Linked DNA regions of Homo sapiens: region 1 is linked to region 2. Evidence: fine-mapped expression QTL. A gene starts in region 2. The other region holds a variant in brackets. All regions are shown on one strand. Distances are from middle to middle. Region 1 has its middle 6.5 kb from the start of PRDX1. Region 2 holds the start of TESK2 (testis associated actin remodelling kinase 2).

Region 1 (5,376 bases), 37 kb after region 2:
ACTAAAAATACAAAAATTAGCTGGGTTTCGTGGTGTGCACCTGTAGTCCCAGCTACTCAGGGGGCTGAGGCAGGAGAATCTCTTGAACCCAGGAGGCGGAGGTTGCAGTGAGCCGAGATCGCGCCACTGCACTCCAGCCTGAGTGACAGAGTGAGACTCCGTCTAAAAAAAAAGAACAAAAGCCGGGCATGGTGGCTCAAGCCTGTAATCCCAGCACTTTGGGAGGCCAAGGTGGGCAGATCATGAGGTCAGTAGTTCCAGACCAGCCTGACCAACATGGTGAAAACCTGTTTCTACTAAAAATACAAAAATTAGCTGGGCGTGGTGGCAGGCACTTGCAATCCCAGCTACTCAGGAGGCTGCAGCAGGAGAATCACTTGAACCCGGGAGGCAGAGGTTTTAGTGAGCTGAGATCCCGCCACTGCACTCCAACCTGGGCAACAGAGCAAGACTCTGTCTCAAAAAAAAAAAAAAAGAAAAAAGAAAAAAAGAAAAGAAAAAAGAACTAAAAGAGAGTGGAGCACATTTGGCATGTGACTATAGTCCCAGCTACTTGGTAGGCTGAGGTGAGAGGATCACTTGAGCCCTGGAGTTTGAGCCCAGCCTAGGCAGTGCTGCAAGAACCAGTCTCTAAACAAACAAAGAAAAAAAAACAGGAAAAAAAAAGAGTTATCCTAGCCTAGAGAAATGTTAACAGTCTATCCCCTTAAGATCATAAAAGTGAAATAACTGGACAGAGTACTGAAAAAAGAAGAAATCTGTTGAACAAGTCTAAGTGATTTGTAGAGTCTCTCCAAAGGACAGTAAAGATTTCAGAACCATGGGGAGGAGGCTTTCTTGCAGGGTCTGATGTATACCTCTAGTTCTATTTTTAGATATATTCCATTGTGCTCTCTTCATTTGCTCACCATTAGCATGGGAATTATTCCCCTTGTTTTATTTATATTTGTAGTAACAAGTCTAGCACAGTAACTGGCATAGAAGTACTTAATAAATGTTACAATGTGTTGAAGACTTTTGAGATGTAGAATTAAATTATTTGAACTACGTTTCAGGAAGTTGACTCTGGAAGCTGTGTGATGAATGAATTTAGTGACTAGGAGATTAGGCAAAGAGAGCAATTGGGAGGCCACGGCAATGATCCAGACAAGAGAAGTCTCAGAACTGTAATATGACATTAGCAGCAGGGTAGAAAGAAGGAAATACAAGGTATATTTCTTCAGGCTTTAGGATTAATTGGATTTAGGATGAAAGGAAAGAGTAAATTAAATCCAGTTTCTTGGTGACATGAGTGATGTCATTAACCTGTGACATAGGAAACACTGGAAGAAAAGCAGGTTTGAGGTTTAAAATAATGTTAAACAGGCCGGGAGCGGTGGCTCACGCCTGTAATCCCAACATTTTGGGAGGCCAAGGCAGGAGGATCATCTGAGGTCAGGAGTTCGATATCAGCCTGGCCAACATGGTGAAACCCCGTCTCCACTAAAAACACAAAAATCAGCTGGGCATGGTGGTGGGCACCTGTAGTCCCAGCTACTTGGGAGGCTGAGGCAGGACAAGTGATTGAACCCGGGAGGCGGAGGTTGCAGTGAGCCAAGATGGCACCACTGCACTCCAGCCTGGATGACAAGAGCGAGACTCCATCTCAAAAAAAAAAAAAAAAATGCCGGGTGTGGTGGCTCATGCCTGTAATCTCAGCACTTTGGGAGGCCGAGGCAGGTAGATTGTCTGAGCTCAGGAGTTCAAGACCAGCCTGGGCAACATGGTGAAACCCCGTCTCTGCTAAAATACAAAAAAAAAAAAAAAAATTAACCGGGTGTGGCAGTGTGCCCCTGTAATCCCAGCTACTTGGGAGGCTGAGGCAGGAGAATTGCTTGAACCCAGGAGCAGAGGTTGCAATGAGCCAAGATCGCACCACTACACTCCAGCCTGGGCAACAGAACAAGACTCCGTCTCAAAAAAAAAAAAAAGCAGTAGTTACATCACTGCACTAATTTGCTGTGGGAGACAGTTACCTGACTCATCAACAGCCATTGTCTCTTCTTCACAGCCAACTAAATGTAAAAGGTAAGGCAATTCAATGTAAGTATAAAGCCCATGTCCCAGGACAGCAATCATTTTAACAGTAGGACTTGCTAACCTGATAGCAGCCTGCTATAAACTTATAAACCATTAAAATTAAACCTATAAACCATGAAACTAAATGCTCTCAGATAATTGTAACAACAAATGCAAAATAAAATAATGGACGCCGGGCATGGTGGTGCATGCCTGTAAAGCCAGCACTTTGGGAGACCGAGGTGGGCAGATCACTTGAGCCCAGGAATTTGAGATCAACCTGGACAACATGGCGAAACTCCATCTGTGGGGGAAAAGCAAGAGAGATCAGATTGTTACTGTGTCTGTGTAGAAAGAAGTAGACATAGGAGACTCCATTTTGTTCTGTACTAAGAAAAATTCTTCTGCCTTGAGATTCTGTTAATCTATGACCTTACCCCTAACCCC[G/A]TGCTCTCTGGAACATGTGCTGTGTCAAACTCAGGGTTAAATGGATTAAGGGCTGTGCAAGATGTGCTTTGTTAAACAGATGCTTGAAGGCAGCATGCTCCTTAAGAGTCATCACCACTCCCTAATCTCAAGTACCCAGGGACACAAACACTGCGGAAGGCTGCAGGGACCTCTGCCTAGGAAAGCCAGGTATTGTCCAAGGTTTCTCCCCATGTGATAGTCTGAAATATGGCCTCGTGGGAAGGGAAAGACCTGACCGTCCCCCAGCCCGACACCCGTAAAGGGTCTGTGCTGAGGAGGATTAGTATAAGAGGAAGGCATGCCTCTTGCAGTTGAGACAAGAGGAAGGCATCTGTCTCCTGCCCGTCCCTGGGCGATGGAATGTCTCGGTATAAAACCCGATTGTACGTTCCATCTACTGAGATAGGGAAAAACCTCCTTAAGGCTGGAGGTGGGACATGCGGGCAGCAATGCTGCTTTGTAAAGCATTGAGATGTTTATGTGTATGCATATCTAAAAGCACAGCACTTGATTCTTTACCTTGTCTATGATGCAAAGACCTTTGTTCACGTGTTTGTCTGCTGACCCTCTCCCCACAATTGTCTTGTGACCCTGACACATCCCCCTCTCCGAGAAACACCCACAAATGATCAATAAATACTAAGGGAACTCAGAGGCTGGCGGGATCCTCCATATGCTGAACGCTGGTCCCCTGGGTCCCCTTATTTCTTTCTCTATACTTTGTCTCTGTGTCTTTTTCTTTTCCAAGTCTCTCGTTCCACCTAACAAGAAACACCCACAGGTGTGGAGGGGCAACCCACCCCTTCACCATCTCCACAAAAAATAAAAAATTAGCCCAGTGTGGTGGTGTGTGCCTGTGGTCCTAACTAGTCCAGAGGCTGAGGTGGGAGGATTGCTTGAGTCCCAGAGCTCGAGGCTGCAGTGAGCCGAGATGGCACCACTGTACTCCAGCCTGGGTGACAGAGTGAGCAGAGTGAGACCCTGTCTCAAAAAATAATAAAATAAAATAATGGGAACCCAAATCACAAGACAGCACTCATTTTTCTTTTATTTATTTTATTTTTTTTGAGACAGAGTCTTGCTCTGCTGCCCAGACTGGAGTGCAGCAGCATGGTTTCGGCTCACTGCAACCTCCACCTCCTGGGTTCAAGTGATTCTTGTGCCTCAGCCTCCCAAGTAGCTGGAATTACAGGTATGTGCCACCATGCCTGACTGATTTTTGTATTTTTAATAGAGACAGGGTTACGCCATGTTGTCCAGTCTGGTTTCGAACTCCTGGTCTCAAGGGATTCACCCATCTCGGCCTCTCAAAGTACTGGGATTACAGGCTGAGTCACCACTACCGGGCTTATTTTTCATACAGATGATTTAGAATATGTTTATGTTAAATTTTTTTAGATTATCACTAAAAGAAAACAGTTGAATTCTTCAATTTACAAGGATTCAATTTTTAAAATTATATTTGAATGTACAGAGGCCTACAAATACCAATTTCAGAAACACTGTTATCAAGGATATCTATTTGTTAAAATTGAATGCAACTGAAAGTAACAGATTAACTGCAAATAACAAGCTTAACCAAATAGGGGATTAATTTTTCCCATTTAACAAGGAGACAGGGCCGGGCACAGTGGCTCACGCCTGTAATCCCAGCACTTTGGGAGGTCGAGGCGGGTGGATCACTTGAGGTTGGGAGCTCAAGACCAGCCTGACCAACATGGAGAAACCCCGTGTCTACGAAAAATACAAAATTAGCCGGACGTGATGGTACATGCCTGTAATCTCAACTACTCGGGAGGCTGAGGCAGGAGAATGGCTTGAACCTGGGAGGTGGAGGTTGCAGTGAGCCAAGATCGCGCCATTTGCATTCCAGCCTGGGCAACAAGACGAGCTCCGTCTCAAAAAAAAAAAAAAAAAAAAAAAAGCAAGTAGACAGGGCCAGGTGGAGTGGCTCATGGTTGTAATCCCAGCATTTTGGGAGGCCGAGATGAGAGGATCATTTGAGCTCAGGAGTTGGAGACCAGCCTGGGCGACATAGGGGTACCCATCTCTACAAAAAATTAAACAAACAAACAAAAAATAGCCAAACATGATGACGCATGCCTGTAGTCCCAGCTACCCAGGAGGCTGAGATGAGAGAATTGATTGAATCTAGGGGGTTTAGGCCACAGTGAGCCATGAATGCACCACTGCACTCCAGCCTGAGCAACAGAGCAAGACCCTGCCTCAACAAAAAAAAAGCAAAACAAAATGATAAAAAGCAAGTAAGGCAGGGCACAGTGGCTCACGCCTGTAATCCTAGCACTTTGGGAGGCCGAGGCAGGCAGATTACTTGAGGTCAGGAGTTCTAAACCAGCGTGGCCAACATGGTGAAACTTCGTCTCTACTAAAAATACAAAAAAAATAGCCAGGCGTGGTGGTGGACACCTGTAATCCCAGCTACTCTGGAGGCTGAGGCAGGATAATCGCTTAAACCCGGGAGGCGATCATGCCACTGCACTCCAGACTGGGCTACAGAGCAAGGCTCTGTCTCAAAAAAAAAAAAAAAAAAAAGAAGTAGACAGCTGTTACAGTATGTTAAGCTCCATAGAGACAGCACCAGGGCAAGTGAGAGCCTGACAGGCACAGGGTGACTCTGTGCCTCACTGAGGAAAAATAACTAGACATGAGCAAAGGAGATCCTCAGAAACCTAGAGGCAAAATGTCATCATATGCATTTTTCGTGCAAAACTTGTCGGGAGGAACATAAGCACCCAGAGGCTTCAGTCAGCTTCTCAGAGTTTTTTTTTTTTTTTTTTTAGATGGAGTCTTGCTCCCATCGCGCAGGCTGAAGTGCAGTGGCGCGATCTT
Region 2 (5,376 bases):
ACCATAGTGTCTTCAGTCTCCAAACTGACTTCTCCACAGATAAGTAATCACATCGATAAGGCCATCTGTTAAACTCCCTCACTTTCCTTCCCTTCTACCACATCATTATCCATTTTCACTACTATCCTTTTGGTGTCAAAGGGCAAAATGCCTGACTGACATATTTCCTAGATGAACCTTCCCCTCACTTACAGAACTGTTTCACCTGTACTGAAAAGAAAAACACACATGTGCCATAATGGAAAGAACACAGGTTTCAGAACTAGACATACCTGCTCAAATCCTTGTCCACAGTACTCTCCACTGTAAAAGAGGGATACTGACATGTTAACCACAAGGCTGTTGTGATCTATAAAGCATCTTTATGTACCTGGCATATAGTATATTCTCAATAAAGATGAGTTTCACTAGAACCAGCTCTCCTTCACAACCAAACTCTGGAGAATAATTTTACTCATTTCTCCTCATTTATTCCTCAATCCATCATGATCTCACTACTACCTTCTTTGCCATCCCCACCCTACCAAAACTGCATTTCAGAGGAAACAAGTGACCTCCTGATTGCTAAATATAGGGCAGGCCAGGCATGATGGCTCACCCCTGTAACCCCAGCTCTTTGGGAGGCCGGGGAAGGCAGATAGCTTTGAGCTCAGGAGTTCGAGACCAGCCTGGGCAACGCAGAGAAATCCCGTCTCTACAAAAAATACAAAAAATTATCTGGGTGTGGTGGCTCCTGCCTGTGATCCCAGCTACTCAGAAGGCTGAGGTGGGAGGATCCGAGACTGCACCACTGCACTCCAGCCTGGGCGACAGAGTGAGACCCTGACACCAAAGAAAAAAAAAAAAAAGCTTCTTAACTCTCATTCAGCTGGACCTCGAAAGCACGTGACATTGATAGTCACCGCCCCCCACTCCCTTCTTGAAATCCTTTCTTTGGCTCCTATTATAATGCTGTTATGTTCTAGTTCTTGTCCCGTTCCTTTAATCTCTCTTTTTCAGTGTCTATTACCTTTCAAACAATGATGCTCCTTCTGGTCCACAGCCCTTCTCATCTTTCAGTATTACCATTCCATACTAAGGCACACAAATATCCCCCATATATTCTCTTGACCCTCCAAATTTATGTATCCAGGTCCAAGCTTTCTCCCAATTTTCAGACCCAAATTTCCAGATACCCACAGTGATATTTCAAAACACCTCAAACTCGGCTGGGAGCAGTGGCTCACGCCTGTAATCCCAGCACTGTGGGAGGCCGAGGTGGGCGGATTGACTGAGGTCAGACGTTCGAAACCAGCCTGGCCAACGTGGGGAAACCCCGTCTCTACTAAAAGTACAAAAATTAGCCGGACGTGGTGGCGCATGCCTGTAATCCCAGCTACTCGGTAGTCTGAGGCAGGAGAATCGCTTGTACCTGGGAGGAGGAGGTGGCAGTGAGCTGAGATCGTGCCACTGCACTCCAGCCTGGGTGACAGAATGAGACTCCGTCAAAAAAAACAAAAACTAACAAACAAACCCTGAAACTTAACTTGTTCAAAACCAAATTTATTACCTTCTCTCAAAATTGCTTTTTTATGCTCCCTATTTCAGATGAGATCAGGAGCGTTGAGGGTGGTATAACCAGAGACTATGTTCCCTATTTCAATTAACACTACCGATTCACACCATCAGCCAAGTCAGAAACTTTCTACTATTCTTCTCAACTTTATTTTGAAACCTCTTGGAATTTCGGGCCATTCCCTCCCGCCTGGATGAGCACACTCGTTTTCTGCCTACCTGGCCTTTCCGCCTCCACGGTCTTCACTTTCAATCCTTCCTCTATATTTTCACCAAAGATAATGCAATCATACCAAGCTCCTGCTTACAAAACCTTCAACGGCTCCCCATGCATGCAGCATGAAGTCCAAATTCCTCAGCAAGTTCTTCTCAGAGGTATACAATTTAAAGACTTTTAAATTACGCAAACCTGGATTTCGCTTGTAGCGAAATCTGAACACTGGCTTAGTCCACTCTTCACAGCGAAGAGTAAAAAGCAGAGAGGGGAAAGGAAGGGAGACGATGACAAGCGAGGAAAGAAGAGGGGGAAGGCAGTAGGGTCTGAGGGGAGGGAATTGTTTTCCTGGGTAGAGGTGAACGTTTTCGAGGGAAGAGTGTATCGGAGGGAAGTCAAGTGAAGGAACCCAGATCTCTGAGGCAGGAGCGGGTATGCGAGCAGGGAGGCGCTCAGTGGGGAGCTGGAAGTCTCTGAAACAAGAGTTTTCCGAGAAAACGAAAGATCCCTAATGCGAGCGAGGTAACTTCTAATGGGTTCCCAGGTTCTAAGGGGGAGCAGACGTGGCGGGGAGCCTGAGGGAAGTGAGAAGGAAAGGGGAAAGCGGCCAGGAAGGGAGCGTCCGCCGCCGCTGAGAGGGGGACCTCTGGGAAGCCGAGGGGTCCCGTCGGGTGCGGAGGGACGCAGGCGCCTCTGCTCCGGGGCAGAGGAGGTGGAGCGGCAGCGCGCGCGGGCCAGGCAGGATGCCCGGGTTTGTGACCCCCGTCCTCTTTTCACGTTACCTGAGGCAGGACTGAGCAGCCAGAGGGGTGCCTGCGCGGGCAAGAGGAGGAGACGGCGGCAAAGAGGGAGCATAGTAACCCTCACAGCTCGTTGGTGGCAGCGGCTCCTTAGCCTGCGGAGGCGGTGGGAGCCCCTAGCGCAGAAGCCGGCGACTCAGCTAGGCTAGCGGCGGCGGCGAACGAGGAGACTACTGCCATGGCCCCACAGTCGGGGCCGCTCCCCCCGCCTGTTTGGCGGGGCCAGGAGGACGATCCGACCAGCGAAGCCAACAGGGCAGCTGGTAGCTCTGCTGAGCTCCCGGGCCGCGAAAGACTGAAACGCCTACCCGGCCCAGCAGGGGGGTTGGGGGCGGGGTCTCGGCTGGCCACGCCCCTCCCTCAAGCCCTCCCTCAGAGTAGCCAGTCAACCGTCAACTCCTGATAAACGAGGTAGTGGAATTGCCCAATTAGCGCTAGGAATGCCACGTGGTATGAGGGTGGGCACAATGGGCGTCCAGAAAAGCCAATCAACAGCCGTAGGTGCCAACTCCGGAGGACGAAGGGAACCAATAGGAAGGAAGTCGAGGTAAAAACAGAAGAAGCAGTGTGTGGGAAAGGCGGAACCGAGGAGGAGGGAATACACCTGGGGGAAACCCAAGTCCAGGAGCCTCTTAGAGGGCGGGGCAGTAAACACAAGATGGACCAATAAAAATGTTAAACACAGAAATGATTGGTAATTGATAAAGCCAATAGAAAATGGACTAGACTGGCGCGGCTTTCGGGTTGGTCAAGGTATAGCTGAGTAAGGAAAAGCGGTAAGAATGCTGCGTCCTGCAGGATTTCAGTATAGTGAGGAGGAAAAAATATATCAATAATACCGACTTGAAATAGTAAGAGCAATCAGTAGAGCTAAACAAAATGCTAGGGAAGCAATTAATCATGACTATGAGATTCGGTTAAGTGAAAGCTTAGAGGAGGTAACACTTCAGCTAGCTTGAAAACAGATTTTGAAAGAAAGCTGGTGGGGAATAAGTTGGGATTTTTTGTTGTTTTTGTTGGTTGTTTTTTTTTTAGAAGGGTCTCACTCTGTCGCCCAGGATGATGGAGTGCAATGGAGCGATCATGGCTCACTTGCAGCCTCAAACTCCTGGATTAAGATGATCCTCCCAACTCAGCCTCCCCGGATAGCTGGGACTACAGGCACACGCCAGCATGCCTGACTAATTTTTTGTATATTTTGTAGAGACGGGGTTTACCATGTTGCCCAGGCTGGTCTGTAACTCCTGGACTCAAGTGATCGGCCCACGTTGGCCTACGAAAGTGCCGGGATTACAGGCGTGAGCCACCGCTCCCAGCTAAGAATTCTGCCCAGCTGTTCAAGGCACATATTTCTTCACTTTTTGCATGTGCCTGGACATCAGGAGCTCATAATCTCATGACTGAAGAGACTAGAACAGGAGGAGGGCAAGAGCAAGCAGTATGGGCCTTACTGTATTAGCACTCCCAGGGGTTAGAGACCCCTTTTCAGACATCTTAAGACTTTCATCCTCCTGGAAGAGTATAAGTGGTATGCATTCCTGGTGGCCATAAAGTTTAAGAAATATGGCCAGGGCCGGGAGCAGTGGATCACGCCTGTAATCCCACCACTTTGGGAGGCCGAGGCAGGGGGATCACGAAGTCAGAAGATCGAGACCATCCTGGCAAACATGGTGAAACCTCGTCTCTACTAAAAATAGAAAAATTAGCTGGGTGTATTGGCGCGTGCCTGTAGTCCCAGCTACTCAGGAGGCTGAGGCAAGAGAATCGCTTGAGCCCGGGAAGCAGAAGTTGCAGTGAGCCAAGATCGCACCACTGCACTCCAGCCTGGGCGACACAGCAAGTCTCCGTCTCAAAAAAAAAAAAAAAAAAAAAATATGGCCAGACACAGTGATTCACTTCTGTAATCTCAGCACTTTGGGAGGCCAAGGTGGATCACTTGAAGCCAGGAGTTTGAGACCAGCCTGGGCAACATAGCGAGACCCTGTCTGTACAGAAAAAAAAAAAAAAATGAGCCCAAAATGGTGGCATGTACCTGTGGTCCTAGCTACTTGGGAGGCTAAAGCCAGAAGATCACCTGAGCCCAGAGGTCAAGGCTACAGTGAGCTGTGGATGGTGCCACTGCACTCCAGCCTGGACAACAGAGCAGGACCCTGTCCCAAAAAAATATAAAAAGAAAGAAAGAAGTGTGGTAGGAGATATTGGAGAGAGAAGAGGCTGCATGTGGGTTGGGCTTAAATGCCAATATTCAAATTTGTCTTTTGTTTTTTATGCTGTGAGAGCTATTCTTGAGCAGGACCATAAACTAAACAGGGCAGTGTTTTAGGAAGATTAATTGGTAGCTCACAGAATCTCTGAAGGGAGAAGAGAGATCACCCCAGCCCAGTCCCCCTGACCAAAGGCTTTTTGGTACCATTCTTCTGGCAACAAATCATGTGCTGCCACCTGGTGACAGCTCAAATAACAATTTTCCACATTGCTATTTAATATTTCTGTTGAGGTTGGGTGTGTGGGCTCAGACCTGTAATCCCAAGGGCTTTGGGAGACTGAGGTAGGAGGATCTCTTGAGCCCAAGGGTTTGAGACCAGCCTGGGCAACATAGTGAGACACATCTCTACAAACAAAAATCCTTTTATAATTAGCTGGGTGTGGCATCACATGCCTGTAGTACTAGCTACTAGGGAAGCTGAGGCAGGAGGATCACTTGAGCCCAGGAGTTCAAGACCAGCCTAGGCAAGATGGCGAAACCCTGTCTTTACAAAAAGTACAAAAAATTAGCTGGGTGTGGTGGCGCATGCCTCTGGTCCCAGC

The links. PIP is the estimated chance that this variant, and not a neighbour inherited with it, causes the effect.
Region 1: its variant is the best candidate, but not a certain one, in a credible set for the expression of TESK2 in whole blood (INTERVAL, PIP 0.56).

The regions. Positions count from the first base shown.
Region 1 is chr1:45,525,736-45,531,111 of GRCh38, forward strand. It overlaps the pseudogene HMGB1P48. Among named protein-coding and RNA genes, the nearest start is that of PRDX1, 6.5 kb to the left of the region's middle. RefSeq lists an enhancer at 1,319-1,827. The variant G/A (reference allele first, on the strand shown) is at 2,506.
Region 2 is chr1:45,488,302-45,493,677 of GRCh38, forward strand. TESK2 (testis associated actin remodelling kinase 2) reads right to left here and starts at 2,862. Exons shown (of 11, transcript NM_007170.3): 1 at 2,551-2,862. RefSeq lists enhancers at 2,520-2,569, 2,856-3,150 and a silencer at 2,800-3,019.